Homo sapiens: one gene and its partners. The protein of the gene in region 4 interacts with the protein of the main gene of each other region in a pairwise test. Each region holds a gene or a part of one and is shown on either strand. Other genes may lie near its edges. The genes, in order: CCDC170, ZNF655, CCT4, CCNH, GRIPAP1, RHOH and CDK6.

Region 1 (3,500 bases), on a different chromosome or scaffold from region 4:
TTCCATCAGTACTTCAGCCACCATCTCAATAGTCAGTGTTTTGAGAATCTGTAGGAGGGACAGAGGATACAAAAATGAATTGGAGATTGACCCTGCTCATAATGAAGAATTGACAGTTTACAATCCACTTTGGGAGGCAGAGGTGTGTGGATCGCTTGAGCCCAAGAGTTTAAGACCAGACTGGGCAACATGGCAAAACCCCGTCTCTACAAAAAACACAAAAAGTACCCAGGCATGGCCTGTAGTCCTAGCTACTTGGGAGGCTGAGGTGGGAGGATCACTTGAGCCCAGGAAGTTGAGGCTGTTGTGAGCCTTGATCGCACTACTGCACCCCAGCCTGGGCAACAGAACAAGACCCTGGCTCAAAAATAAAATAAAAATTAAAAAAGAGTTTACAATCAAGAAAAACAGACACATAAAAAGATTACTCCTTCATCAACACTAAAATTTAATGCTGCACTCTTCTCAAGTTGGATTTACCTATAATGCGATCACCAGCACAGCCTTACTGGGATGGAAAATGTGACAAATACTAACAGCAATATTATGAGAATTGAAGTGGAGCAGCCCAAACATGAAGGAAAGAGATATGCTTTGGGGGAAGTTTACAAACATAGCTTTCAGTAAGACTGCATAACTTTGTCATGCATTTGAAATAACGCTACCCAGTGAAAATGTGCTGGGTGCGGTGGCTCATGCTTGTAATCCCAGCACTTTGGGAGGCTGAGGCGGGAGGCTCACTTGAGGTCAGGAGTTCGAGACCATCCTGGCTAACATGGTAAAACCCCGTCTGTACTAAAAATACAAAAAGTAGCCAGGCTTGGTGGCAGGTGCCTGTAATCCCAGTTACTGGGGAGGCTGAGGCAGGAGAATTGCCTGAACCTGGGAGGCAGAGGTTGCAGTGAGCCAAGATTGTGCCACTGAACACACCATCTCAAAAAAAAAAAAAAAAAAAAAAAGAAAAGTGACCTAATTATAAAATAGGATCACCAGTCAGCAAAAAGCTGTAGCAATAGTTCTGTGGAAAGTGCTTGGATTCCAAATCCTCTGACACCAGTGAGAAGCCACAGACATATGGTGGCTTGTAGGCTCTCTTGCTGTGGCAGTGTTTTCACATACCTGGAAAACCTAGATCAAAGTTACAGCTCCAGTAGATACCATTGTTGGGAATTTGAGCATCTCTTTCCTTTCTGTAAAACAAGGGTTAATTAGAATAACTATCAACAGAATTGTTATGAGAAGCAAATGTAAATAGCAACACACTCTATCAGCAGCTATAGTTCCTCAAAACAAAGGACTTAGAGCTGGTCATAGCTAACTATAAAGGAGTTAAAGTCTGTTTTCCTTTTTCTTCCCATCATTTCTACTTTTAAAAACCTCATATAAAATACATATAACATAAAATTTGCCATCTTAACTTACAAATGTACAGTTTAGTGGCATTAAGTACATTCACATTGTTGTGCAACTGTTGCCACAAGCCATCTTCAAACCTTTGTTCATCTTGCAAAACTGAAACTCTGTACTCATTAAGCAATAACTTCACATTTCCTCCTCCCCACAGCTCCTAACAACCACCATTCTACTTTCTTTCTTTATGAATTTGACTATTCTAGGCATGCTGTATAAGTGGAATCAGACTGTATTTAACTATTCTAGGCATGCTGTATAAGTGGAATCAGACTGTATTTGACTATTCTAGGCACGGTGTATAAGTGGAATCAGACTGTATTTCAGTATTCTAGGCACGCTGTATAAGTACAATCAGACTGTATTAAACTATTCTAGGCATGCTGTATAAGTGGAATCAGACTGTATTTGACTATTCTAGGCACGCTGTATAAGTGGAATCATACTGTATTTGACTATTCTAAGCACTCTGTATAAGTGGAATCAGACTGTATTTGACTCTTCTAGGCACACTGTATAAGTGGAATCAGACTGTATTTGACTCTTCTAGGCACACTGTATAAGTGGAATCAGACTGTATTTGACTATTCTAGGCACGCTGTATAAGTGGAATCAGACTGTATTTGACTATTCTAGGCACTCTGTATAAGTGGAATCAGACTGTATTTGACTATTCTAGGCATGCTGTATAAGTGGAATCATACTGTATTTGACTATTCTAGGCACGCTGTATAAGTGGAATCAGACTGTATTTGACTATTTTAGGCACGCTGCATAAGTGGAATCAGACTGTATTTGACTCTTCTAGGCATGCTGTATAAGTGGAATCAGACTGTATTTGACTCTTCTAGGCACACTGTATAAGTGGAATCAGACTGTATTTGACTCTTCTAGGCACACTGTATAAGTGGAATCAGACTGTATTTGACTCTTCTAGGCACGCTGTATAAGTGGAATCAGACTGTATTTGACTCTTCTAGGCACGCTGTATAAGTGGAATCAGACTGTATTTGACTATTCTAGGCACGCTGTATAAGTGGAATCAGACTGTATTTGACTATTCTAGGCACTCTGTATAAGTGGAATCAGACTGTATTTGACTATTCTAGGCATGCTGTATAAGTGGAATCATACTGTATTTGACTATTCTAGGCACGCTGTATAAGTGGAATCAGACCGTATTTGACTATTTTAGGCACGCTGCATAAGTGGAATCATGCTGTATTTGACTATTCTACGCACTCTCTCTGTATAAGTGGAATCAGACTGTATTTGTCCTTCAATGACTGGCTTATTTCACTTAGCATAATGTCCTCAACGTTTCTTCATGATGTAACATGTATCAGAATTTCCTTCCTTTTTAAGCTTGAAATATATTCCATTGTATGCATATGTCATGTTCTGTTTATCCATTCATCTGTCTCTGCACACTTGTGTTGTTTCTATCTTTTGGCTGTTGTAAATAATGCTGCTATGAAAATGAGTGAACCAATATCTCTGTGAGACCCTGCTTTCAATTTTGAGGGATATATACCCGAAGTGAAATTGCTGGATCCTATGGTAATCCTATTATTACTTTTTTGAAGAACTGCCACTGTTTCCGTAGTGGCTGCACACATTTTACATTCTCACCAGCAGTGCACAAAGGTTTTCATTTCTCCACATCCTCACCCCCACTTGTTATTTTCTGTGTGTTTTCTTCCTTTATTGTAGCCTTTCTAATGGGTATGAGGTAGTATCTATTTCCACTTTTTAAAGAACCATTTCCTCCCTCTTCTGGTTTGCTCTGTTTTTTTTTTTTTTGTTCTACTCCTTTTTCTCAAAATCAAGTTTAAGAAGAGATCTGACTCTAGTTGCATGTCTTCATATGAACTTAAGTCAGAAGCCTTCTCTAGATATAAAGAAAACCAATCTCCACCCCACCACCCCCAAAAAGAGAATATAGAGAAAAAGAAACAGAAGGAATAGGGAAAAAAGAAAACATAAATTATAGTTGAAAGAAATACAAACATATCAGTAATTATGATAAATATATATGGAGAAAATGCTTAGTTAACTAAGAAAAGCCATATTGCATTAAAAAAATCTAA
Region 2 (3,500 bases), on a different chromosome or scaffold from region 4:
TTTATTAATTTAACTTTTTAGGGTTGTAAGACTTTTTTTTTTTTTGAGACGGAGTCTTGCTCTGTTGCCCAGGCTGGAGTGCAGTGGCACCATCTCTGCTCACCGCAAGCTCCACCTCCCGGCTTCATGCCATTCTCCTGCCTCAGCCTCCCAAGTAGCTGGGACTACAGATGCTCGCCACCATGCCTGGCTAATCTTTTCGTATTTTTAGTAGAGATGGGGTTTTGCCATCTTAGCCAGGATGGTCTCGATCTCCTGACCTCGTGATCCGCCTGTCTCGGCCTCCCAAAGTGCTGGGATTACAGGTTGTGAGCCACTGCGCCTGGCCTCCAGATTGTATTTGTCACAGACATTAGAACGTTGGTCCTTTGCTTAAGTGCTTCCACTATGCAGCAGTAAATATACAGAGTACAAATAGCTGAGTAAAGAAGTCGGTAATAAGTAATTTTCGTTACCACATAATTGAAAAAAGAACATACTCCATTGATGATGAATGAACAATTTGCCTCTGGGTCACTATCCATAGGGAAGTTACCTGTTACTTAGTGTGGTAGATTAAGACCCATAAAGGGGACCGAGTTGCTTTTCACATGGGTAAGTGTGGCAGGTGCCCTATTAGATGATGGCCTCAGAAGCATGCTTGTTAAAATTCTAATTGATATTAACTGGGTCAGTAGATTGGGAATGTTTGGCACATACTCTCTGCTTTTTTAACTTGATGTCATGAAGGACTACAGTTATTTTGCACAGAATGTTTTCCATTGTCACAGCTATTTAGTATTTATTGAGCAGCCAATATGTTATTGGGTACTATATATATGTATGTATACACACACACACACATATGTATATACACACACACAGACATAGGACATTTATATGTGTGTGTGTGTGTGTGTGTATATATATATATAAAGGATATGTGTATATATCTCATTTAATCCTTACCATAACCCTGTGAGCAGATGACACTGCTCCTATTTTATATCTGAGGAAACTGAGGCTCAGAGAAGTTAAGTGATCTTTGCAGGATCAGTGAGAGGCTTGGGACCCAGATCTGCCTCTGAAGCCCCTGCACTTTTTCACTACTTTGTGCCCTTAGGACAATAAGTTCAACTACACATGGAGTTTTTAATATTTTTAGTGAGTTGTGTGTACTCTGATGACAAGAAAAATTCAAAATGCCATGACAAATTGGACAGACAGGCCAGTATATAGTTTGGGACCAGAAAGGACATGCATTCAAAAAGTAAAACTCTCTAGGGACACATTCCAGTCCAACAGGTATCTACAAAAGAATGATATTGCTAAGGAGAGATATTATTTGTGTATTAAGGACCAGGAAGAAAAGCGTGAAGCTTTCAGATGGCTAAAAGCATAGCCGTAGTAAAAGCAGCAAACCATATGATAAGGCAAATTTTAAATATTATTTTTGAGGCAGGGTCCCCTCTTGTTGCCCAGGCTAGAATACAGTGGCATGATAACAGCTCACTGCAGCCTGGACTTCCCTCCAGGCTCAGGTGATCCTCCTACCTCAGCCTTCTGGGTAGCTGGGACTATAGGCCTGTACCATCATGCTAATTTTTTTCTATTTTTAGTAAAGAAGGTGTTTCGCTATGTTACCCAGGCTGTTGAACTCCTGGGCTCAAGTGATCTGCATGCCTCAGCTCCCCAGAGTCCTGGGATTACACATGTGAGCCAACACCATGCTCAGCTTTAACTGTTATTTTTGAAGACCAGATTAAAATAAATTTTATTAGAAAACTCTCAAGATTTAAATAAAATAATTTTTTTTTTGGAGACAGTCTTGCTCTGTCGCTCAGGCTGGAGTGTGGTGGCACAATGTCAGCTCACTGCAACCTCCGCCTCTCAGGCCCAAGCCATTCTTGTGCCTCAGCCTCCAGAGTAGCTGGGACTACAGGCATGCACCACCATACCCAGCTAATTTTTGTATTTTTAGTAGAGATGGGGTTTTGCCATGTTGGCCAGGCTGGTCTTGAACTCTTGGCCTCATGTGTTCCACATCCAGCCTTAAAATCAAAAGGTTTTAATAACTTAATTTTAAACGGAAAAAATGTAAAGCAAGTGCATATTTTGAAAGCATAGAGTCGGCCAGGTGCTGTGGCTCACACATGTAATCCCAGCACTTTGGGAGGCCAAGGCAGGCGGATCACCTGAGGTTGGGAGTTCGAGACCAGCCTGACCAACATGGAGAAACCCCGTCTCTACTAAAAATACAAAATTAGCCGGGCATGGTGGCGCATGCCTGTAATCCCAGCTACTCTGGAGGCTGAGGCAGGAGAATCACTTGAACCCAGGAGGTGGAGTTGAGGTGAGCCGAGATCGTGCCATTGCACTCCAGCCTGGGTGACAGAGTGCAACTCCGTCTCAAAAAAAAAAAAAAAGCATTCACGTCAATGTCAAGAGAACCTGCTACTAATGCTTTCTTTGATAGGCAGTATGATAGGTTGGAAAGAATATAAACTGGGATCAAGCTTGGGTTCCACTTACCAGCTGTAGTATGTTGAGCAAATTATTTAATCTGACACTCATTTTCTTGGTTTATAAAACATGAAAAATAATGTCTACCTTCTGGGTACAGGATTGAATTAGATTATGCATATAAGTACCTGGCTTGTGTCGGGTGCGGTGGCTCACGCCTGTAATCCAGCACTTTGGGAGGGTGAGGTGGGCGGATCACAAGGTCAGGAGTTCGAGACCAGCCTGACCAACATGGTGAAACCCCGTCTCTACTAAAAATACAAAAATTAGCTGGGCATGGTGGTACATGCCTGTGATTGCAGCTACCCAGGAGGCTGAGGCTGGAGAATCGCTTGAACCCGGGAGGTGGAGGTTGCAGTGAGCCAAGATCATGCCATTGCACTCCAGCCTGGGCGACAGAGCGAGACTCCATACCCCCCGGCCAAAAAAAAAAAAAAAAAATTAAGTACCTGCCTTGTGCTAGTTACTTTAATATTTTGGAAAGAATAGCAAGCGATATGAGCCATAGACCAGATTTTTTAATACAAATAAAAATTTCAGGAGTGTGTTCAAATTATTTATTTATAGTGGAGTTTCCTCAAATTTATTATTGTTTGGACTATTGTCTAGGGATTTGGATTTTTTTTTTTTTTTTTGAAATGGAGTCTCCCAGGCTGGAGTGTAGTGGCGTGATCTCGGCTCACTGCAACCTCTGCCTCCCGGGTTCAAGCGATTCTCCTTCCTCAGTCTCTCGAGTGGCTGGGACTACAGGCACCCGCCATCACGCCCGGCTAATTTTTGGTATTTTTAGTAGAGACAGGGTTTCACCGTGTTAGCCAGGATGGTCTCGATCTCCTGACCTTGTGATCTGCCTGCCTTGGCCTCCCAAAGTGCTAGGATTACAGGCGCGAGCCACCGTGCCTGGCTGGGGTTTGGATTTTTATTGTAAAGGATTTCCATTTCCTTGATAATAAATCATCTTTTAGATCCCTTTTAATTTTTAATTTTAATTTTTTGTA
Region 3 (3,500 bases), on a different chromosome or scaffold from region 4:
CACTTTTCTGTTTAATGCATTGTAACAGTGTTTTGATAAAGCTAGATATTTTAATTTGCCTATAAGAAACCTTTTCCTCCACCAAATCAGAAAGACTGCCATAGATTACTGGCAGTATAGCTAATTTTTATTGAATATTTAATATGGTGGGCATTGTGATAAGTTTTTTACATTTATTGTCCTCTTCAAGGCCCTCAGATAGTCATATCCCCATTTTATAGATGAAAAGAGTAGATCTAGAGGAGTAACTTATCCAAGGACCGCTAACAGAAACAGCTGAGATTTGAACCCAGGACAGGCTGCCCATCGTGGTCCATCCCTTAACTAATACTTATGCTGCTTTTCTTATTTACCAAACTTAAAGCGGTGTTGTGCTTTTAAATTTCTTTGGAACTCATGTCACTTGTTTTCTGTAATATCCTGTGTTTATCCCTTCCTTCCCCTAATCCTTTTTCCTTTTAAAAATCAGTATTAAGTCCATACATTCATTTTGTTTGAATGTTAGGTAGTGTTAGGGACACTAAGTGATACTGTTGGATGTCCTTAGAACTAATACAGATAGTATAGCGTAATGGTTACAAGCACTAGGCATTGAGTCTAGACTGCTTGTGTTTGTTCAGTACTGACTTCACCACTTAACTACGCTGTTTGGCCAAATGACTTAACCTCTTGGCTTCAGTTTCTCCATCTGAAGATTGAATGAGTTAATATGTAAAGTTCTAAGACCACTGCCTGGCATATGTTAAGTGATTGATAAATGTTAGCAATTTTTATCAACCCCTCATCAGGAATGTACATACATAACATTGATGCCTCATCACACATTCATTTTAGATAGAAAATACTCACGTAAAATTAAATTTATGCTTTTTGGATTTCCTGTAAAACTTTGATATTCTACAGTCCCGGCTATTATATTAATAAAAGAAAAAAGCAAGCATACATGTTTTTATTTTGTGCCCCTGGTGACAACCTGAATGGAAAAGACACTTTATGGACTGTCTTCTCATGAGTGTTTCCCTCTTCATACCCACACCCCACTGCAAAAATTATAAGAGTCTTTCTTAAGTATCTTTGTCATTGAAAAATTAGGACTTTTTTCTACTGTGAAGGTAACTTTTTTTTTTTTTTAATAATTCTAGGTGGTTTCTCAGTATTCAAGTCTGCTTTCTCCAATGAGTGTAAATGCAGTGATGAAAGTGATTGACCCAGCCACAGCCACCAGTGTAGATCTTAGAGATATTAAAATAGTTAAGAAGCTTGGGTAAGCATCTCTAATTACAACTTGAATAAAAATTTGAAAATGAGCATCAGATTGCCAAAAATAAATAAAAACACCTAGATGAAAGTCACAAAGCTCTCTTTTCTCTTTTTGGTTTTGTTTTCGTGAGAATTTGTATTAGTATGGGCATCTGGAGATTTTGTTTATGTTACCTTATGATAGTAAGGCAGCAGTGGATCAAAGAGATCCAGGAGTGGGGCAATAATAAATGTGAGGCTGAATCATATTTTATTGGACTGATGACTTTTAATCTGTTCATCTATTAAACGTACAGATGTCCACTCCCTCTTAACTACCCCTCTTTGTTTTCTTTTATCCTTAGTGGGACAATTGATGACTGTGAGTTGGTGGAAGGGCTGGTTCTCACCCAAAAAGTGTCAAATTCTGGCATAACCAGAGTTGAAAAGGCCAAGATTGGGCTTATTCAGTTTTGCTTATCTGCTCCCAAAACAGACGTAAGTAGAATCCAAATGAAATTGGTTCTCTGTGTTTAACTTTTTAATAACTCAGGCATTTCTTTATTAAAAATAGAAAATACTACTAGTGATTTAAAGCAGATCTCAAAAGACTTACTAGAATTGAGACAAAAATAGTAATTGTTGGTGCCACAAGTGACAAGTCTGTATCCTCAGTTGGGATATTGAAATTGAGAGCTAGCCATTTGCAACGATGCCTGTAGTCCCAGCTCCTTGGGAAATTGAAGCAGAAAAATTGCTTGAACCTAGGAGTTTGAGGTTGCAGGGTGCTATTCCATGACCTGTGAATAGTCCCTGCACTCCACTCCAGCCTGGGCAACATAGTGGGACCCCATCTTTTCACTGTTGCTGTTAATTTACAAATTCACACAGATTAGAGAGGGACCCTATCTTTTGAAAACAACTAGGGTAACCATTTTATATTTTTTGGTTATAAAAAATTTACTTGCAAAATGTAAGATACCAGTGTACTTAGTTGAAAATAAAAGACTCAAGTTTGGGATGTGTATCTTAATCCAGACTCTTTTCTATGCATGTCTATATAATTTATTACTTGATATAGTTTTGGTTGAATTTATACAACACATAGTATTTTCGCTTAAAATTCTACTTTTAAACTTAAAATATCTTACAATGCAAATTATGATGTTCTTTTTCTGAACAGATGGATAATCAAATAGTGGTTTCTGACTATGCCCAGATGGACCGAGTGCTGCGAGAAGAGAGAGCCTATATTTTAAATTTAGTGAAGCAAATTAAAAAAACAGGATGTAATGTCCTTCTCATACAGAAATCTATTCTAAGGTGTGGGGCTATTTATTTTGTTCATCCCTTAATGATAATTTTGGATCTCCACTAGCAGTTTATTTTTTCTGATAAAATATATGATTTAAGCACTTACTCTAAGTTCGTATTTCTTAACAGACAACTCTTAGGTGAAACGAAATGGAGAATTTTTATTTTAAAAGCACAGGTAAAATGTTAGGCCTCAATATTGTACCATCATTTGCTCAGACCAAGGGAAAAAATGGTATAAGTTCAGTTAAGATGTCTAGGAAAAGCATTTTAAACAAATATATGACTTGTAAATTCAAAACAATAAAGGTGTAATTTTCTTTTACAAAAAAAAGTAGGTTTTTTAAAATAGCCAACTAACTGCCAGAATGTTGTGTTTTGGCCTTTTAAAAAACTTATTTCTTCGATTATTGGCTTCAGGGTGGAGCCCTTAAGGAACAGGGCCAAGAAAGCATGCAGTTTTTAGAGTCTAAACCACACTTCTAATAGCAATTTTTTTTAATTTTTTTTTTTTTTTTTTTGAGACAGAGTCTCACTCTGTCATCCAGGCTGGAGTGCAGTGGTGCAATCTCGGCTCACTGCAACCTCCGCCTCCTGGGTTCAACAAGTGATTCTACTGCCTCAGCCTCCCGAGTAGCTGGGACTGCAGGCACGTGCCACCACACCTGGCTAATTTTTTGTATTTTTTGAGTAGAGATGGGGTTTTACCATGTTAGCCAGGATGGTCTCGATCTCCTGACCTCATGATCCACCCGCCTCAGCCTCCCAAAGTGCTGGGATTACAGGCATGAGCCACCGCACCCAGCCTCTAAGAGCAATTTTTATAGAAACATTTGAGTTGGGTAAACCACCAGAAATCTGCATTTTTTTTTTTAGCAGTATCATTATTTTTCCTTGCAGTTACAAGCTGGAAAAGCATTATTATGTTTTGATAAAAAGTGCGTAAT
Region 4 (3,500 bases):
TTCGTGTTTAGCACAGAGTCTGGCACATGGTATACATTCAATAAATGGTAGTGCTGCTTCTGCCATTCAGTTGGCAGCAGTGATCACAAATCATGGAATGGATACATGGTTATATCACAAATATGGAGTGGCTTTAGAGAGAAGGCTTATTGCCTTGCCCATGTTTTTTTGTCAGTATTTTTATAAGATTGGTTAATCTGTGAACGTTTGTATTTTTCTTCCTGAATTTATCTAATTCAGAACATTTTTGATAGTCTGATTTCTAATACACACACACACACACACACACACACACACACACGTATTTTTAAATCCAGTGACCATAGGAAGGATTAGCCAGAGTAGGCTGGGGATAGACAAGCAAAGGATGGGAAAGAATCTTTTGGCTATGGCATTTCTGTAGTAATTCATCACAATTTGTTTTGATTAAAGAAGAATTAATGAGTATTAGTATTTTTCTGGGTAATCTCTACAAAGAAACCTTTCCATAAATAAGTTCTGTTTCACAAAATTTAACATTTAACATTTGTGACTAGATCCTGATGATATATTTTTTTTAACCCTTAGGGTACGGCTTGTATGTATTTCAAACGTTTTTATCTTAATAACTCAGTAATGGAATATCACCCCAGGATAATAATGTGAGTATGTCTGTCTAATATATTGTTTTCATTTAAGAAGACCTTTATAATCTTTTGAGTATTTTTTGGGAGGAGAGAATTGTGAGAGAGAGAGAGAGAGAACTGACTTCCTAATACAGGGTAATTTAGACTTGAATTCTATTTTTTTTTTTTTATTCAGAACTTGAGATCTCTGTTTACCTGTACTTCAGTAATTCTGATGGTATGTGAACTTCAGCTTGTCCAGATTCAAATTTTGTTTTTCTCAAATTAGCTACTTCTCTAACATCTCTTCCTATTAGACACCTTTGTTCTTCCAGTTGTTCAGACTGAGAATCATTTATAGTGGCCCCTCCCACATCCAGTCAGTTTACGGATCCTATAGCTTCATACTCATTTCAGTTGAACAAAGGTCTGTTGTTGCTGCTCTCTGCTGAGCGCTGTGTCTATCATTAAAAATGAAATTAGTATGAAACTCATCAAAGAGTTTGCTCTCAATGACATTGTACCTGTTTTCTCTTTTTTGATTCCCATTTCCACCAGTCAAGATTAGGCCCTTGATCTCACTGCCAACTGTTTTTTACAGTAGCTTTCTTACTGTTTTCTCATACTGAACAGCATGAAGTGGCCAGGTGAATTTCACAAGTTTGTCCCTTAAATAATAGTCCCTTATTCAGATGCCCTTAGAGACTTCTGCCGATGGCCTTCCACAATGTTCCTTTAACCTACTTTTCTTCCCATACTTACATGGTACATATGTGGGTACTGCTTTATTTTTAACTCTTCCATCTACATTATACAAAGTACTCTTATTCCTCAGTTAATTTGTTTTTCCAGATATTTAGGTTGTACTGCATAACACTGTCATTGAGTCAGTGATGTTTGAATGCCATGGCAATATTGGTTTGACCTAATTTTATAGTTGTCTTACGTCTCCTAATGAAGTGTGAACAGGAAGTGTCTTTTAAAAAACAATTCTTGCAATGTCTAGCAGTCGCTTTTGAATATTAGGCAATTATAGAATATACTTTTAGAAATAAATTATTTAGATACTTCTCAAAGTATATGCATGTTCTTCCACCCCACCCACCCCCTGCCTCCTGCCTCCTTATTTTTTCCTCTAGGCTCACTTGTGCATTTTTGGCCTGCAAAGTAGATGAATTCAATGTATCTAGTCCTCAGTTTGTTGGAAACCTCCGGGAGAGTCCTCTTGGACAGGAGAAGGCACTTGAACAGATACTGGAATATGAACTACTTCTTATACAGCAACTTAATTTCCACCTTATTGTCCACAATCCTTACAGACCATTTGAGGGCTTCCTCATCGACTTAAAGGTAAACTTGATGTAAAATAAACTAATACTACATTCTCCTTTCCTATTCTTTAACAAAAGAATCCAAAATTTTAAAACTCATAATCATCCTCGTTGTTATAGCATGGATACAACCTGTGGGTCTGGCCTGGTCATCTAGGGCAGTTGTTTTCAAACTTCAGTGGGCATCATCAGTCATCTGGAGAAATTGTTAACTGAGATTGTTGGGTGGGACTTACAGAGTTTCTGATTTAAGTGATCTGCAATCTCATTTAAGTGATCTTCATTACATCCAGGGATGTAATGAAGACCATTGAGAGTTTAGAACGGTGCTTACTATAAAGGCTTAAGATAACTCTTCTAACTTTGAATTATATTGTCATGGATCTGGGCCTGATTTAAACCATAAAAAATTCTTAAACTAGAAGATTGCTAAGTGACTTATATTTTTAGAGGTTTGTGAACTTAAGTCACTATGTAGGCATCAATAATATACGTAAACAAACATTGACAAAAGCAACTTTTTTAAGTTGTTTTGTTTGGCTCTAAAAGAGAAGTTGGATAGTCTGAGTCGAATCAAATCAGGAATTGGTTCATTCATGTTAGATCAGTGGCTCAATTTGGGTACCTTCTATGTGCCAAACTTTGTGCTTGAGGATGTAACCAGAAATAGGACAGGAACAGTCTCAACTTTTGTGAACCTTACAATCTAAAGGTTTTAGACAATCATATATCCAGTGTGCTCAATGATACAGAGGGGAAAATATATTTTAGAGGGAGATAACAGATTAAGGGGTAAGGAAAACATTCTGAGAACGTATCATTTAAAATAAAATTCAGAGTAGGAATAGGAGAGAGAAGAACATTCCAATCAGAGACTTCCCTGGTAAAAAGCTCAAATTCAAGAAACCATTCCGTGCTGAAGAGCCTGAACAGAGCCTAGCAATGCAGGGGGAAGAGATCACAGACAGCTGCTGCCAGAGTGGAAGGCAGAGTCTAGACTGTGGAGACAATGTTACAGATTTTGAATACAGCAAAGAGAAGCTAGTGAAAGGTTTAAATTTAGAGAGTGGCATGATTAGATTTGCAGCTTTAAAAGATCATGTTGGCAACCTTATGGATCAGGTATTTATCGCGCATCTGTATGTGTCAGGCATAACGTGGAGAATGGATTAGAATAGATTAAGTCAATAACAGGGTACCGTTAAAGGAGTCCAAGCAAAAGATAGTGCTGGGCTTCACTCGTATGAAGGTTGTGGATACAGAAAGAGCTTCCTGGGCTTCAGAGATACAGGATGAGTATCCCTTATCTAAAAAATTTGGGACTAAAAGTACTTGGGATTACACTTTTTTTTTTTTTGATTTTGCAATATTTGCATTGTGCTTACTGGTTGAGCATCCCAAATCCAAAATCTGAAATGCTCCAATGAGAATTTCCTGAGTGTCATGTCAGTGCTCAGAAACTTTCAGATTTTGGAGCATTTCGGATTTTGAATTTTTTGGATTTGTGATGCTTAGCCTGTAGTTAGGTAGAATCAATAGAACATGAGGATTGATTGCATATAGA
Region 5 (3,500 bases), on a different chromosome or scaffold from region 4:
CAAAGTGCTAGGATTACAGGTGTGAAACACCGTGCCTGGCCTAATTATTTTATTTTTAGTACACACAAGTTCCTGCTATGTTGCCTAGGCTGGTCTTAAACTCCTAGCCTCAAGAGATCCTTCTGCCTCAGCCTCCCAGAGTGCTGGAATCAAGGTATGAGCCACTGTGCCCAGGCTCTCACAAATATTTTAAGCCCTATCAACCACTAAGATTCTGTTTACTATTAAATTAGCCCAAGCTGGTTTCACAAATCCCATTCTCAATCCTTGAAGCCCCACCCATAGCCCTTGAAGGCCATGCCCACCATATGCTACCACTGACTTACAGCTGAATCCCTCCTAGAGCCTCCTAATTCCTACTCACATTCTACTAAGTCTCCCTCCTGGTCATGGAACCAGCATCCATCACCACAGAAGTCCCAGCTGCTCTCCAAAGTTCCACACACCACATGCTCCCACACTCTATCAAGCTTTCTTTCAGCTTTCATCCCAGACCCCACTTACAATCTGGGCTCAGAATCTTCCCAACACTCCATTCACTTTTTCACTTAGCAAATATCTCCTTTTTTTTTTTGAGATGGAGTCTCGCTCTGTCGCCCAGGCTGGAGTGCAGTGGTGTGATCTCGGCTCACTGCAAGCTCCACCTCCCAGGTTCACACCATTCTCCTGCCTCAGCCTCCAGAGTAGCTGGGACTACAGGCGCCCGCCACCGTGCCCGGCCAATTTTCTGTATTTCTAGTAGAGACGGGGTTTCACCATGTTAGCCAGGATGGTCTTGATCTGCTGACCTCGCAATCCGCCCGCCTCAGCCTCCCAAAGTGCTGGGATTACAGGCGTGAGCCACCGCGCCCGGCCGCAAATATCTCCTTTTTGACATTCAAGCTGCTAATCTGTAACATCTGCTAGGTACCAGACACTGAACTAATGCAGAATGATATCACCTTTTATCTCTACTACAATCTTCTGGGTGACAGACATCACTACATGCACTGTGTAGATGATAAGGCTTTGGCTCAGAGAGGTGAAATGGCTTGTCCAAAGCCACACAGGGCATGGGCCAACCCTATTTCTGAAGCCCTTCTCCTTCCCCTGAGAGGATGACGGCCTTCCTTGCCCTACTCAAGCCCCAATGTCTCCGCATCCCCAGGAGGGCCTCTATGCACCTGCCACGTTCTTCTGCAAGGCTGTGTTTTCAGCCTGTAGCCTCAGCAGCTCCCCATCCACGAGGGGCCCAGCTTGGGCAACCCCTGCTCCTGCAGCCCCCTCCTTCAGTTGCTGGTTCTCTTGCTCCAGCTGTTCCATCTGGCTGCAGAGCTGAACAGAGGAAGAGAAGGGGCAGAGAAGCAGAGAATCAGAGCAGTATTTGCTGAAACCTACATAGCATTTGTCCATGTACTTTACAATTCACTTAATTCCCATAATGACCCTATGATATAGGTGCCCTCCCACTTTACAAATAAGGACATTGAGGCACAGAGATGTTAAACAAGTTCAAATTCACACATCTTTTAAGTGGCAGAGTCAGAGAATACCAAGAGCATACCAAGTATGAGGACACCAAAAACCATTTTCCTCTTCCTACTCCCAACCTCAGAGATGCAATCCAAGACCTCAGGCTCCTCTGGAAGTTGTTAGTGCTACAGACAGCCTCACTGCAACCCCTCTTCTGTGGAGGGCTGGATCCTGGGCCCAGAGATAGCTCCCTCTCATCCTAAGCACCACAAAGAGCTCGCAGGGCATTTCCAGGGCCAACACTGATGACAGCTCCTGCATTGCCAGCCGTTAGTCTTGGAGAGGTATACAATGCCAATACAACTAAGCCAGCCCCCTGCCCAACTCCTGGCTGAAGTACACTTCTCAAAGCAGTCCTGAGAAAATTCCTTGTCCCCATTTTCAGATGAGAATATCGAGGCCTACAGAGAATTTTTATTTTATTGCCTGCAATATTTTCTTTCTTTTTTTTTTTTTTTTTTTTTTGAGATGGAGTCTCGCTCTGTCACCCAGCCTGGAGTACAGTGGCACGATTTCAGCCCACTGCAACCTCCGCCACCCGGGTTCAAGTGATTCTCCTGCCTCAGCCTCCTGAGTAGCTGGGACTACAGGCATGCGCCACCGTGCCCGGCTAATTTTTGTATTCTTATTAGAGACGGGGTTTCGCCATGTTGGCCAGGCTGGTCTTGAACTCCTGACCTCAGGTGATCCACCTGCCTCGGCCTCCCAAAGTGCTGGGATTACAGGCATGAGCCACCGCACCCGGCCTGCTTGCAATATTTTCTACCCAGAACACCAATCCTCTCATCCAGTTCTTCACCTAACTGGCTTCTTTGCATCCCTCAGTGCTCTGCTCAGATGTTGCCTTTAAAGTAGTATCCCTCAACACAGAAAATTCCAGTACTCTCTGTCACAGCACTGTTCATTTCTTTCTTACCTAGTACTAATCAAAATTTTCTTTTGTAACAAGCACAGATTCTGAAACCAGACTGCTTGAATGTGAATTTCTGCTCTGCCATTTACTAGCTGTGTGACAAATTACTTAATCTCCCTGGAACTCAGTTTTCCTCATCTGTCAGATAGGGATACTAATATCTCATAGGCTTATTTCAAAGATTAAATGAGTGAATAATGTAGAGTACTTCAAACAGGACTTGGCACACAGTAAGCACCATATAAATGTCAGCTATCACTACTAGTATTATTTGTTTACTGTTATCATCTTTCTCCTCATCCCACCCCCAGAATGTAAGCTACCCAAGAGTGGAGATCATTCTGTGCTGCTTACAACTGTATTTCCAGAACATAGAGCATGTGGTGGGTACTCAGTAACTATTTGTCGAAGGAACAATTAAGCTGAAATGTCTTGATGAATAAGGGGTGGTGGCAGGTTTAACGTAGCTCTCTCTGAGAGCACTTCCAGTTCCTGGGAGGAGTTGGAGGAGGAAGGGGACTATGTAGGAAGTCTCTACGACTAGCCCAGTGCTGGCCCAGGGCAGATGCAGGGAAACAAGCTGGATTTATGGAAGAATGTCTGCCCCTGCCTCACTCTGCAAGAATCATGATACCATGGAGGCTGGAGGCAGGAAGCAGTGAGGAGTCAGTCAGTGAAGCCAGCAGTTATGTGAATACCAGGGGCTCTGAACTAGGAGCAGGACTGGGGCACTGGAATGTATTAAGTAAAGGAGTGATGTCATAAGATCTGCAGGTCAGAACAGCCTCTGTGGTGTGAACTAAGTAGAAGAAACTAGAAGTGAAGAGACCAGGGAGGCGGCTGTAGAAACAGCAGATGATAAGTGGTAGAGGCTAAGGCAAAGCAGGGCCACAGGGTGGATATAAAACTTTTTTTTTTTAAATTGAGACAGAGTCTTGCTCTGTCGCCCAGGCTGGAGTGCAGTGGTGCAATCTTGGCTCACTACAACCTCCGCCTCCCGGGTTCAAGCGATTCTCCTGCCTCAGCCTCCCGAGTAGCTGGGACTACAGGCACGTGCCACCACACCCGGCTAATT
Region 6 (4,107 bases), on a different chromosome or scaffold from region 4:
GTGTGAGCCACCGCCACTGCACCTGGCCTCCCACAGAGGATTTTCTAGGAGATAATGTGCTCTTCAGAAGGCTCGAGGATCTCAGCTGGCAGATTGAGTTCTTACTGTGCATTAACAAATTGACACATGGGTTCATGTGGAAGTCTTGTGAACTTGGTAATTGGGTGTCTATTGATAAGAATGCTCACCTTGTACCATTGATTCCCTCTACAACTATGCTGCAAGCACAGTCATCTGCTTTCACTTCTTTGAACATGCCAACCTCTTTCCCACCTCAGGGCCTTTGCACATACTATTTGCCTCTACGTGGAATGTTCTTTCCTCCTTCTCATCCATTAGAGTGGCAGCAGTACTTTAGAATAATCAGAGGGGTTTAAAATAATATTGATGTCCGGTCCCAACCCAGCTCAATTAAACTCAAATCTTTGAGTGTGGGGCCGATGCACTGATAAAATAAAATAAAAGGCATGGAGTTGACTTTATCCTTACGGTCGGCAGGTATTTTGACCAAGCTATCACCGTGAGCAGTAGCATCAACAGTTAGTTATTCAGGGATTTGGGGCACAGGCGGTTGTGACCACATCACAAAAGTTCAATTTGTTGGGTTAGGCGTTTAGCCATAACCTAAGTAGTTGCAGATGGTCTCTACACCTGGATTGCCCATTAGGACAAAACAAGTAAACTTGTGTTTTTAGGCAAATAATGAAACTCTGAGGAGTCTGAAAAAACAACTCATCGCCAGGTAACTCCCAGCCCAGGTGCTCGTCCATACAGGGGTGAACGCACGGCAGGGGGCTGCTCGAACTCTCACTAAGCCTGCCTCTGTTCTTTGCAAAATATTTGATAGTTTTTAATGCAGCAAAGCGAAGCAGACAATCCACCTCTTGTTTTCCCCAAGCTGATGGGGGGAAAGTTCTAAGGTGTTGTTTCCTAAGCTCAAATTAACCAAGATTGGTCAGTGGCATGGACTTTTTTTTTTTTTTTTTTTGGTAATTTTACTTCCATGAGGAATCATTTGGACTCTTCAGTCTTCCTTTCTTCAGTTTTACGTAGGGCTTTGCTGGAGGAAAATGGGGCTAAGGGGGAGAGAAACATAGTCTCGGAGTAGGGTGGGGGATAAATTAAACGCAAACCCAGCGGTGCGGCAAAGGCCTTATTCTGCCTCTGATCTGGGGAAGTTTCATATTCTAATGGAGAGAAACGCACGTGCACACACACCCCCCTAAACCCACACAAATGAAACCCCCTCTGCGGAGAAGCCGGCTACAGGAAATTGACTTAGGCACAGGAACTTGCTAATCTCTTTTGTCACATTCGGATTGCTCCTGCTGCCCCACACACACTAACCCAACCATCTTGGGGTGGACTCCCTGCCAGCCCAACTGTTGTATTTTCAGTTCTTCCAGTGTGAATCAGTTAATATTCTCGGGAACGAGGGAGAGGTTGATCCTATGAGGAAATCAACCACAGTGAAAAGGCTTGGGCCGCTTTTGTTTTCACCTGCTTTTGTTGAACAAATTTGATTTCCGGAGTCAGTCATTTTACTGTCAAGACATTTCTTCGGCATTCTGCAACAGGTAAGGATTTTGCTTCCTTAAAAGTATTTCTTTGGTGTCAAAAGAAATTTTTCTAATTTTATTTAGCTTTTACTCTAGGCCAAACATCGTAATGACTCTGAGCTACCTGCTGTAAGGTGTAGAATCAATTTACAGGGGGACGGGGGTCGGGGGGGTGAGTGTTGCTTTGATATTCACTGCCCCTCACCACAGTCCTAACAAGATTTTTGAAACATGAAAAGTTACAATAGTTGGCTTTTTGGTTTTCCAGATATTCTAGAGAATGCATATGCTTGTGACTGTGGCTGAGCTCAACTGTATGGGTAGTTTAAATACTACCCAAGGTTTGATGAAGTAAATCTAAAGATGCTCTAAGTTGTGCAAATATGAATTTTAAAGTTGTCTAGTTCAGAAAAGAAACAGAACCGAAGTCTAAATGATGTAGATTTCAATCTGGAATTTCTAGCTTGTGTTTTTCACCTATTGCCAATGTTAATGACCATTTCCCAAAAGTGCTCTATGATGTATAACATGTATTTTTTAATTAAATTTAATCTTTCTTCTGAGGTGGTTTGATTTGGAGATATGCTACGAGGTACCAGTCAGTAGCCTGAGTTGTAACTAAACAAAGTTTGGGAAATCACCGGTTTTAGGTGCTTTACTAAATGAAAGTTGCCATTGACGTATTCAAGCAGGCAACAAGTAGTTGGTGTCCCCTTATTGGTTCTAAGCTGGTGCCGTGGAGGATATAAGAGAAATATTTTAAAAATCTCTACTTTGAAGGACCCTATAATCTGGTAGTTGTGATAAGAAGTAAAATTTAGGAAGCAATGCAAGATGAGAATTCAGTGATGAGTGGGGCAGCACAGGCTTGAAGAGTTCTGTGAATTCCATGGAGGGGGCCTGGGGGCAAACTGGAGTTGTCAGGAAGATCTGGGCTTTGGAAGAATGCGAAGTGTCGGTAGAAGGAGAAGGGGCAGGTGATTTCAGACTGGGAGGACCTTGTGGGCAAAGGCACAAAGGCGAGACTGACCTGGAGATGATAAGGCCAGTTGAAGAGACACTGGAGAAGAGAAGACAGTTTGTTTTACACATTGCAGGAAATCAGATTAGACAGTTAGGGTGTGGACACAAAAGCGAGGACCTTGCAGGCACTGGGGAGAAGTGACCCCATTCAATAGTCCTTGGTCTCCTTCTGCCCTGCGGCTGCGCTTCCTCGGCTCTCACGGCACCAGCAGAATTCCATGTGAGAGGGAGCTTGTCGAGCGTGGCCTCTTCCCACTTGGGGCTGCTTTCTGCATCCCTGTGCCTGGCTGTGGGCCTCCATTTGCCCTCTACTGTCTTCCCTTAGGACATCATTTATGCAGAGAAAGGTTCGTGTGGCTCGGGGTACCAGTAAGACCTCCACCTCTGGTTTCTTCATTTTAAGGAGGCCCTTCAATTATCCAGGAATTAAAGTGGCCTTCCTCTTGGGAGAACGAGTTGGTTGATGAATGATAAGCAAGTCTCTATTCCTCAAAAGCCAGTCCCCAAATTCCATGAAATATGTGCTACTTTCTTTGCATGTCTAAATGAGATGGCACGGGTATGCTTCTGTTCTTTTTCTGGACGTTGTTTAGAGAGTCAGTAGATCATAATAATTCAGACACTTTTTTTCTGGACCATAAAATATCTGAACCCATATAATAACAAACATACAGCACGGTGAATAAGAACCCAACTTTTGAGCCAGATCACTTTGCATGGAATCCCCATTCTATCATTCTATCATTTCTGGGCTGTGGGAACCTCAGACAAGTTACTTAACTTCTTCAATGCTCAGATTAAAAAAAAAATTCACAAAATATCTCTAATAACAGTAATAATAACTGAAAATACCTACCTCAGAGGGTTGTCGTAGAGATCAAATGAGATAAAAATATGTAAAGCATGTAGCCTAGTGCCTGACTGAAAAAAAAATCTCTCAATAGATGCAACTCTTATGATTCTTATTAAGGACTTGGCTATTGCCACAAATGAAGGTGTTATGAGCCCTGGCTTAAGAGCAAGAAGCCTGCAAAGCTAACTCTCCTAATCCCAACATTCCTTTCCAGGGAAAGTAGGGTGACAGGTGGAGGCTGGGAATTAACGTTTTTTGAGCACCAAATATGGACAAGGCACAGGGGTTGGGTGTTTTTCTAGTGAGAATACATATGAAAGAAGGAAAACAAACTTGGAAACCGCTATTTTAAGCCATTTGGTAACAGTTTCTCTAGCTTATGAGATGAGAGAGGTCCTCTCAGTATCCGCTGCATTACTTGTGGGCCTCCTTGGTTGACGTCGCTCTCTGAACGCTTGGGGTGGAATTCTAGAGGTGCTTTTCATTAGAGGCAGAGAGCATGACCTTTCTTCCTTGCCCAGTTTAAATTAAATTATTTTATCTTACAATGTGTTAATTTTAGTGCTAGCAAGGCACAGCTAAAATTCCATTTCTACTTAGGAGTGGGGATCATTGTGGCAGTGAGTGCTTATTTGGGTTTGGGATGCTTGGATCTGGGTGAAAGCCAGGATT
Region 7 (3,500 bases), on a different chromosome or scaffold from region 4:
ATGGATCCTGTTTGAACAGCCTGAACTAAAAACAATAGAGATAAAATTATAGCATGTTTTGTCAGCAGTCTGTTCATTCACCAAATATTTACTGAGGGTCCACTATGTGCCAGACTCTTCTAGAAGGTGGGGATATAGCAATGAACAAGCCTGGAAAAGTCTCCGCACTTGTAGAACTTGCCTTGTAATGAGATGAGCAGTTCTTTCTTCTCTTTAAAAATTTACTCATCTTTGTTTTAATTGCCTTGTTTTGTTATACTTAACCTAACCAGTTTTATAGAACAACTGATATTTCTGATAATTCGGTTACCAGGAATTTCCTGATTGAGTAGGCAACATAACCAAAAGGCTAATCAGAATCAAGTGCTTTTTGAAGATTAAATTTTACCTCCCTAACATAGGGATTGATCTATATGAGATACTGACACATAGCTAATATAAGTGAACATTTGAGCTCCATTTATTCAAAAAGGATTTAGGAAGGGCATATGCTTTAAAAACCATGGGGCTAGGTGCTGGGAAAGATACCAGGGTAAATCATACCTAGCTACTCTCCTGAAGCAGTTCTTCCCATGTTTGAAGGAATAAGATGATCACCATAACCCTGATACATGATAGGATCATGTGCTGTAAGAAAGATACAAGCCAGTGCTTACCTGTATTGTTTCTAGGGATTATATTTATTAGTGTAACAGTAAAAGCAATTCAAATTCAAGTATTGGCTCTGGAAACTAAAAGTCATTACATATCAGTGAATAAACTTGTGATGTTTAAATATTATAATTAGAATAGTCACTGCTTTAAAAACAAAACAAAAAACCCAAAGAAAAGGCTGTAAAGCTTAATGATTATTCAAGGAGAGTTTTCTAATTTTCTCTCTTTTTTAAAGATCTTAGTAATATATTGCATAAAAGGTGAGTAAAAATGTGATTTTCTCTGGAAAACCTAATTGTTAACAGGGTAAAAGAAACATGACATATTTGACTCTGTAAAGCCAGGTCTTCAATTGGATTAGTTCATGAGAATCCTTCTGAATAAAATTGCTATTTGTGTGGTTGAATAATACATTTACTAGGGCTTTTTTCAATAAAAGCAGGAAAAGCAGGAGTTTAATTCTCCTTTTAAATATCAGTATGTTAAAAGTATGTTTGTTCTTTCTGTCTCTGAGAGTTCCTTGAAAAGTTTCTGATTTTTCAAGGTTGTTTAGTAAATAAACATTTTCACAATGGTATTCTGCTCATTTTTTGTTCCTACAGAAGAACTTGATAATGCTGAATTTTTGACATTGCAGTTATATCCCTTTTATACAACCACTATCAACATAGAATTATTAGAATCTCTCTATGGAATCAAGGACAAAAAAGGTCTATAAGAGGAAAACTTGTATAAACTTGAATATCTTTGAGGATATTTTCCTATGTTTAAGACATGGGTAAATGAATATCTATGCAAATAGGTTCCTATTAAAAATAAATTATTTCTTTTTTAAAAAAACAAATGTCTCACTATTAATGATTTCTTAGGAAAGTTTTTTAAGAAGGAAACACAGCATACATGCAGCCTATCATTGTAAAACCATGGATATTAGGGTTGGAAGACACTCTGGAGGTCAAGCTACTTGTCTGTCATGCCATTTTAAAGTTATTGACTTGTTCTTAAAACTAAGTAGCAATTTTTGTTTGTTTGTTTGATGGAAGCAGTTAAATCGGGTGAGTACATTTCTAGTTTGGAAAAAATGAACTGTATGTAGACAAAAGTGACAGTTTGCCAGGAATGAATGACATAACGATAAATGAATAAAAATTCAGTAAATTCCTGAATTCTGCAGTATGCCATACTGAAGTATATCTCTACAAGAGTATTATTCCAGTAAATTCTTCTTTTAAGGAAGTTGTGCTATAATTATGATAATTTAAATTAATTATAATAATTTAAAATAGCTATAGTTAAATGATGATACAGGTAAATTATGCAGGTAATTCATTAATAATATTGAATTCATTTTAGACAAAGAGGAGTAGGAAAAATTGAAACACTTAGTACTTGTCTGATGAATGAAATATTACATAATGTGGCTCTGGCACATTATGTAACATTCTGGTTAATGAAATAAAAACATCATAATACTTAAAAATTAGATGGCATAATAACCATCAGACACATAAGCAAATATGTGTTTTCCATGCCTTCTGAGGAACTAATCACACTATTGTTCTTTCTCATGAGGTTCAGATGAGTTGCTCTGTCTTCATAGGAAGTAAATTAATTGTGAGCTTCTTGATGTAACAGAACACAGCAGAGATGAAATCTGGGTGTCAGTGAATTGTTAACAGGAGAAGTTAGTGTGTATGATGTTGGGCTTTGTCCAAGATCCAGGAGGCAGCACTGAAAACGCACCGGTGGTTGATAACAAGCATACTTACATGAAGGTCACTATTTGAGTGATGATCCATAGATGCTAGGTTTGGTGGAGCAGGCAGGCCAGCAATCAGAGAGATTTTTCCAAGAGCTGCTGGGTAGTTTTCTTGAATATCACCAGTTTGCTGCCATACCTGATTTTTATTTTACCAGCTGCACATGTAGCTGCTCTTGCCTGAGAGGTGAACCGGAGGGACTGCAAGGCATGTGGCAGGAATCTATGCAAGTGTACAGTTGTAGTCTGGAAGTCCATTTGAGTCAGGATTATTATTAAACATTTTTGACCATCTCCTTTGTCTATAGTAGTTTGCCGAAATTTGGATATCTACTGGCTTTGTAATTTAAGTAGCCACTTAAATTATTCCTATTCTCTGGCCTTCCTAAAGGATTTAGTTCAGTAGAATTAGAATCACAGCATAAGGATTTTTTTAATTGGAAGAAGTCTTAGATTTAACCTAGTGCAACCCCCTTTGATCTGTTTTATAATAATAAAATTTGAGTTGTTTTATGAATGCAAAAAATTATCTCACTGTTAGTGAACAGTTTTATTCTGTGATTGTATGCATTGTAGATATAAACTGATTGAGGATGGCTAAGATTCAGACAGAGGTTTATATTAAACATTGGTAAGACAGGATGACTGATGGTCATTGGATATACCAGAAAAAAATCCCTTGAGATGTAAAAGTATTTTCAGTTTAGTGACTTTATGTTTGCTGACTTGAGAACCAGGATTGTGTATTTTATATCCATAAATAACATGGTGTCCATAACCATTGGTTAACCCGTATATGTTTCCTGATTGATTGAAATTTTAAACCCCTTAGATAAGCACTTTTCATCGTTTTAGAGTTGTATACTGCATTAGCAAGTATCTTGGACTATTGACATTGGGAGATCTGTGGGTATTAACTGTAAGGCATACACATGTGAAGTCTATTTAGTAAGAGTCTTCAAATACTTACTCATATTTAAACTTTTCCTGACTATGCATTTTTTATCTTCAATATTGTACTTGCTTTGGCTTTGACAGGATATTCTCATGTTCTTCCTCTGTATTTGTTAACATGTATCCTACAGAC

The links.
Region 1: the proteins of CCNH (region 4) and CCDC170 interact in binary tests that used the Homo sapiens proteins (3 or more experiments, as listed by UniProt).
Region 2: the proteins of CCNH (region 4) and ZNF655 interact in binary tests that used the Homo sapiens proteins (3 or more experiments, as listed by UniProt).
Region 3: the proteins of CCNH (region 4) and CCT4 interact in binary tests that used the Homo sapiens proteins (3 or more experiments, as listed by UniProt).
Region 5: the proteins of CCNH (region 4) and GRIPAP1 interact in binary tests that used the Homo sapiens proteins (3 or more experiments, as listed by UniProt).
Region 6: the proteins of CCNH (region 4) and RHOH interact in binary tests that used the Homo sapiens proteins (3 or more experiments, as listed by UniProt).
Region 7: the proteins of CCNH (region 4) and CDK6 interact in binary tests that used the Homo sapiens proteins (3 or more experiments, as listed by UniProt).

The regions. Positions count from the first base shown.
Region 1 is NC_000006.12:151,497,017-151,500,516, forward strand, and holds part of CCDC170 (coiled-coil domain-containing protein 170), read left to right. Parts: exon of another isoform or gene 1-48; intron 49-1,119; exon of another isoform or gene 1,120-1,190; intron 1,191-3,500. UniProt on the Homo sapiens protein: Plays a role in Golgi-associated microtubules organization and stabilization.
Region 2 is NC_000007.14:99,565,142-99,568,641, forward strand, and holds part of ZNF655 (zinc finger protein 655), read left to right. Parts: intron 1-3,500. UniProt on the Homo sapiens protein: Probable transcription factor.
Region 3 is NC_000002.12:61,875,157-61,878,656, reverse strand, and holds part of CCT4 (T-complex protein 1 subunit delta), read left to right. Parts: intron 1-1,142; coding exon 1,143-1,264; intron 1,265-1,604; coding exon 1,605-1,737; intron 1,738-2,422; coding exon 2,423-2,562; intron 2,563-3,500. UniProt on the Homo sapiens protein: Component of the chaperonin-containing T-complex (TRiC), a molecular chaperone complex that assists the folding of actin, tubulin and other proteins upon ATP hydrolysis.
Region 4 is NC_000005.10:87,406,431-87,409,930, reverse strand, and holds part of CCNH (cyclin-H), read left to right. Parts: intron 1-567; coding exon 568-641; intron 642-1,744; coding exon 1,745-1,955; intron 1,956-3,500. UniProt on the Homo sapiens protein: Regulates CDK7, the catalytic subunit of the CDK-activating kinase (CAK) enzymatic complex. CAK activates the cyclin-associated kinases CDK1, CDK2, CDK4 and CDK6 by threonine phosphorylation.
Region 5 is NC_000023.11:48,992,265-48,995,764, forward strand, and holds part of GRIPAP1 (GRIP1-associated protein 1), read right to left. Parts: intron 1,315-3,500; coding exon 1,164-1,314; intron 1-1,163. UniProt on the Homo sapiens protein: Regulates the endosomal recycling back to the neuronal plasma membrane, possibly by connecting early and late recycling endosomal domains and promoting segregation of recycling endosomes from early endosomal membranes.
Region 6 is NC_000004.12:40,195,724-40,199,830, forward strand, and holds the start of RHOH (rho-related GTP-binding protein RhoH precursor), read left to right. Parts: upstream 1-1,307; 5' UTR 1,308-1,577; intron 1,578-4,107.
Region 7 is NC_000007.14:92,826,574-92,830,073, reverse strand, and holds part of CDK6 (cyclin-dependent kinase 6), read left to right. Parts: intron 1-3,500. UniProt on the Homo sapiens protein: Serine/threonine-protein kinase involved in the control of the cell cycle and differentiation; promotes G1/S transition. Phosphorylates pRB/RB1 and NPM1.